Linked DNA regions of Homo sapiens: region 2 is linked to region 1. The links come from fine-mapping of genetic effects on gene expression. Tissue or cell type: whole blood. Region 1 holds a variant in brackets; the other region holds the start of a gene. All regions are shown on one strand. Distances are from middle to middle.

The links. PIP is the estimated chance that this variant, and not a neighbour inherited with it, causes the effect.
Region 2: it holds the start of ARL5A, and the variant in region 1 is fine-mapped to the expression of ARL5A in whole blood (INTERVAL, PIP above 0.99). The same link has a PIP of 0.9 or more in non-classical monocytes.

What each region holds. Positions count from the first base shown.
Region 1 is chr2:151,636,207-151,638,964 of GRCh38, reverse strand. NEB (nebulin) reads left to right here. Exons shown (of 182, transcript NM_001164508.2): 64 at 2,631-2,738. Among named protein-coding and RNA genes, the nearest start is that of NEB, 97 kb to the left of the region's middle. The variant T/C (reference allele first, on the strand shown) is at 1,261.
Region 2 is chr2:151,827,126-151,829,883 of GRCh38, reverse strand. It overlaps ARL5A (ARF like GTPase 5A), which reads left to right and starts at 1,463. Exons shown (of 6, transcript NM_012097.4): 1 at 1,463-1,753. The coding sequence starts at 1,708. RefSeq lists an enhancer at 1,138-1,187 and silencers at 1,238-1,747, 1,798-1,847.

The sequences.
Region 1 (2,758 bases):
AGCATAACTGTAGTAAATATATTTTCCATATATTGTTCCTAAGTGTGGTTTAGGATCCAAATTTAAGATTTTTAGTATATAAGATTAAAGGCAAGAACTAAAATCCACAGTACTACCAGGTAACCCACACACACACACACACACACACACACACACAGAGAGAGAGAAATATCTGTCAGTGTAAATATTAGCAAGCCCATTTCCTTTCACTTTCAGTGTGCACAGGGCCACGTGCCATCATTCCAGAATCATAGAGGCTTAGGCAGAGAGTCAAGCCTCCACCCTAGTGCAAAGGTACCCCTCCCCACAAATAGGTTTTTGACCTGCCTTTGCTTAAGGGTTCCCAGTGACAAGGAGCTGATCTCATAAATCAGTCCATTCGTTCTGGAAAATTTATGAGAAAGCTTCTGATGTATTGAGTCACAACATTTCTCTCTGTAAACTCACATAGTCCTCTGAAGCTGCACAGAACAAATCTGTGCCAACCCCCAGAGATGGAGAGCAGCACCAGGGTGCCTCCCCTGCCACCTTCACCCCAGGTTCACCTTCAAATCCAATATCCCAAGCTGCGGGGCATTCCTCACATGACATCACTAGTAAAATGTGACTCTCAGAACTGAGCAAAATACTATGAGTGGGGAATGACTGATGTAGAATACACTTAACTATCGTATTTCCTCTTCTGGACATATGACCTCTATTCTGCATCCTGTGCTCCCAGGATACATTGGCAGCTGTCACTGCTGGTGCACACAGAACTTGAGACCAACTTAAACTCTAAGACATCTTATGTGGACTAAAGTTAGGTTTCTTCCATCCTGCATTTATGCGTTTGGTAATTTATCTCTGTTCAAAGATTGGCATTTATCTCTGTAATTTCTTCTTCTTAGACTGAGCCTGTGGGTATAAGCCTGTGGAGATTTTTGTGAATCTAAGATTCTGTCAGCTGATGTGTTAGTTATTTCACCTGGCTTTGTGCCACCAGCAAGGAAAATATTGTTTATTTGGCAGCATAAATCAACACACAGAGCATAATTTAGAGAATTTAGATGGAATTGCCACCATCTTAAGTAATTATTTTGGAAGTGAGACTGTAATTTTAGTGCTTGTATAGCTAGCTTTTAATTGTCACCAAAAACTAAAAACATCAAGTCTTACTCCCCTGTCAGAAAGGACTGAATTATTAGCCAAACCTATAATATAGGTCCTGTTACAGGAAACCATGCATTACATGTGCAAGAATTTCAGGAAACAAAGGGC[T/C]CCCCCTGTGTCTAGCTAGTCAGCATTTCTGGATTTCTCAACTCTGTCTTTGCTGAAAAAGCTCAGAGATGTGTTAGTGCGGCTACTCGGCTGCCAGTCCCAGGAGGCCCAGGTGCCCTTCCCCATTTTGCCCGCAACCCCCTATTCCACCCACCCAGACTGGGACGCTGCCATGGGCGCTCCCCTCTGATGTTAAAAAGAAGAGAACTTTTTGGCTGCTTTCCTATTTTCTGTAGAATTAAACACCAACTTCTTAGAATGAGGCGTTCACAGTCCAACTCTGGGCTATTCTCAGCCCTCTCCTGTGAACTCCTCCCTGGGGCCTCACCCACTTCCTTCAACACCCCTCCGCTTCCCCTCCACAGTGGTGCCTTGATTCACGTGATTTCCTCTGCACTTGATGCCACCTTAGTCTACTGAAACTCTGCTCAAAGTCTAACTCAAAGGTCACCCCATCTTCAAGAACTTCCCTGATTCTCAGTTCAGAATAAATGACTCCTTCCTGGAGCTCTTCATTATTAGTGTGGTTTGACTTTTCAGCAGTTGCTTCCACAGGTTATCAGTCTCTCCATCAGTTCTCCCAGGAACCTTTAGGTTGAGAGGGGTCTCAACCTCATCTTTGATTCCCAAGTACCCCGCACAGTCAGAGACACAGGGTCAGGGCAGAATAAATGTGAGTTGAATTGATTGCCATGATCAACAGTTAAGCCTTTCCCTCCCACCCACATTTTACCATGCTAGAACTATGAGTTTCAGCTTAATTTTTCCTGTAATTTTTAAACTGGATTTATTGTTTTAACTAAAATTTTTTAAAACAACCTGTAATATGTATATATACTTAATTCAACATAATTTTTAAAGTAAAAAATAAAGGTGCATTGGGCTTTATGGGTATCTTTTTTTTTTGTTTTGTTTTGTTTTTTGAGATGGAGTTTCACTCTTGTTGCCCAGGCTGGAGTGCATTGGCACAATCTCAGCTCACTGCAACTTCCGCCTCCCAGGTTCAAGTAATTCTCCTGCCTCAGTCTCCCAAGTAACTGGGATTGCAGGCATGCACCACCACACCCAGCTAATTTTTTTTATATTTAGTAGAGATGGGGTTTCACCATGTTGGCCATGCTGGTCTCGAACTCCTGACCTCAGGTGATCCACCCGCCTCTGCCTCCCAAAGTGCTGGGATTACAGGTGTGAGCCACCACACCTAGCCTCATTTTTGAGTCTTCACTTCAACAAACATGCAGAAGGCTTAGAACTCTCAAAAGAAAGATTATTATAGGCACTGTCTGTGGAGAACTTAGTGAATTGTCTTAGTCCTCTGTCAGTTTTTAGATATAAATGTCAGCATCTGATTTTTTTTCCCCCAAATTTAGAGTCTGTACAAACTTGCTAATGAAGAAGCAAAGAAGAAAGGCTATGACTTGCGAAGCGACGCCATCCCCATCGTGGCGGCCAAGGCCTCCAGGGACATCATCAGTGACGTGAGTTGTCAATTCCATTC
Region 2 (2,758 bases), 190 kb before region 1:
TGCTTTTAGGGATAAAGTCCAGGAAATGGTAAGACTCCACCTGTTCCTTTCTCTTTTGCAAAGAATCACAGTACTGTGATGTGTTTTTCAATATCTGAAATGTCGTTGCCTGTACTTTGTGCAGTTTTCTATTTGCTAATGGTAGGAGGATATATTCAAACCATCCTACTCTCTCATGCCTGAAGTCAGAAGTCTCTCCAATGACATTTTGCATTTCTCTGTAATCATAGATAAATTGGTCTTTAAACTCTCTGTCTCTGTCTCTCTCTCTCTCTTCTTTCTTCACTCGGAAAATAACCTGGGAGACCATTTCCTTGGGTAGATTGTAAAATATGAAGCTCCGCCATCACATAATGTGTATATGACATCCATTTCATAAGTTGACATCTGTGTGGGAGTCTGAAAAAGTCTTAGAGCTACCAAAGCATTACCTACGGTGTGCGAGAATGGAAATATTACAGAGTTAATGCAAATTGGTTATACAAACTACATTGTTCTTCTAAACAGTGTACAGAATATTAAGTAAATCCAGACATGATAATACATAAATTAATATGGATTACTATGATTTTCCTTCCCTTCATGTATGGCTCCTCTAAACTTTGGCTTTTTAACCATAAAGCCCCAAAAGAAGTCAACGAAATTACTTTTCTATATTTTGAGGTAAAATACTGGGTAGTTAGGAGAAGTGAGTTGGGAAGGTGCGGTTTATTGCTGATTTTGCTTAATTTCATTCAGCTGTTGGGGATGGGAGTGCAAAGCAGTTCAAATGGCTCCTACAAGTCTCCCAATTTTTCTTTATTTTCCTTTTTACTAAGGTTAACGAGAACAGAAAGGGATGGAGCTTTGGTGGCCACTAAAGGTTTTTAAACAGGGTAGTGACTTGATCAAAATCGTTGTTTTGGGCAATACTGACGTGAGAGTTAAGAGATTGGAGAGAAAAGAGCCCTGAAGTGCAAAAATGGCTTTAAGGTGACTATCTAGGTAAGGCCACTGACTTCAGCTGAGTGTCAGAGGGCAGCAGACTTTTCCCTCAAAGACCCACAGGGGACACAATGTCTTAAAGAGTCATGACGTGGAACTTTAAGTGTAGTGTATGTGAAGGGTTGGGGATGGACATGGGGTACTCAATTATATGTTTACATTATGGCGCAGTGGAGAAGATTCGAGGGAAATATAAATACTCGGGGACGCAACAGCAAGCAGTCGGAAGCCATCTGCCCCAACTTGCGGTCTTCACAGCCTCAGTCCCAGGGTAAAGTCCTGCGCCTTCCGCAGTCTTGGTTATGCAAATAAGCGAGGACAGGGCGGGCGCCCTTTCCTACGCTCCGCCCCTCTGGCCGCGCGCCTGCGCACTCACGTCCCTCCAGGCCCGCCCCTTCACTTCCCCCGCCCGCGTGGTCGTCGCCACCGCAGCCGCCCGAGAGGAGCTGGGGGAGGACGGTGGCCCGCGAGGCTCGTCGCAGACAACGCGGCGGCGATGTCCGCGAGCCAGGCGAGTGCCGCGGCGGCAGCGGCGGGGCCTTGCGCGCGGCAGGGCGGCCTGGGCTTCGGCCTCCCTCCGGTTCCCTGGAAGCGGGCCCGCGACCAGCGCGGGAGCAGCAGCAGAGGCGGAGGCTCCAGCGCGTCTCTCTCCTCCCCCTCAGCCTGAGCCGGGGGAAGCCAGGCGGCCCGGGTGTCTGGAGGGGGGGGGTCCGCTGCCCGAGAATGGGAATTCTCTTCACTAGAATATGGAGACTGTTCAATCACCAGGGTGAGGAGCTCGGTCCGCGGGCGTACGGGTTGGGGAGAGGGTCAGCTCGGGCCGGCTAGGTGGGGGTCTCCGAATACTTCGGAATGTGGGCGGCTCGGTCGGGCGCCAGCTCAGCGCGGGGTGCAGGCTGCGCGGATACGGGCCCGGGACGGTTCGGTCCCGGCTCCCGAGCTTGGGGATGGTTCCTGACTCGCAGCCCTTTGTCTTAGGAGACCTTCCTAAGAAGTCTTTTCCGTAATAGACCCATTGCTCCGATTTCGAATGAGAGTGGTAAAGGTTTCTTGCCCTAGGTCCGACGTCCCTGAGTAGCACGGCCTGGCCTGTCTTTCAGCCCTTTCTTTGCTCACCAGTTGTGTTTGGACACCACATAGAAGTGCTGGGGTCTTCTGGAATGAAGGTTATAGATTGCTGCCCTAACCGCACCACTGAGCGACCGAGGGTTGCAGAATGCGGAAAACGGGAGGAATCGCTCGACTTGTCCATTACACCTCTGGTTTATGAGCCTGCCCTCCACTGCCACCCGTCTTTGTGTGTGTTGGGGGCAGGGGGGGTTCTTCTGCCTCCTGAATAGAGATGGACTTCTCTCCATTTGTTTTACTTATTATATCTGTGTTTAAGGTTAAGCTTAAGGTCATTTTTCTACTCGTGTGGGTTATTAGACACAGTTTTTGTTTGTTTTGCTGGGTTAAAAATGTTAAAGTGTTTCACTGAAAGTTTTAAAAACATACCATATGAAACATTTGTTAACCATAGGTAACTAGCAAGTTACTAAGTGTAAAGTGTGTTATATAGGGATGCTTAAGTTCAGCCAACTTCAGACATGGCCATGAAATACCTATCAGGCTTGTTAAAATTTGTTACAAAATGACTAAAACTGGGGAAAGAGAATACAATTTTAACCCAAAGACTGGATACTTATTAAGATACAGTGGTGTACTTTTGTTTCTTTTTAACTCAAGTTGGGTGGTTCATCATTCCGCTGTCAGGAACTTAGTTTGTGTTTTT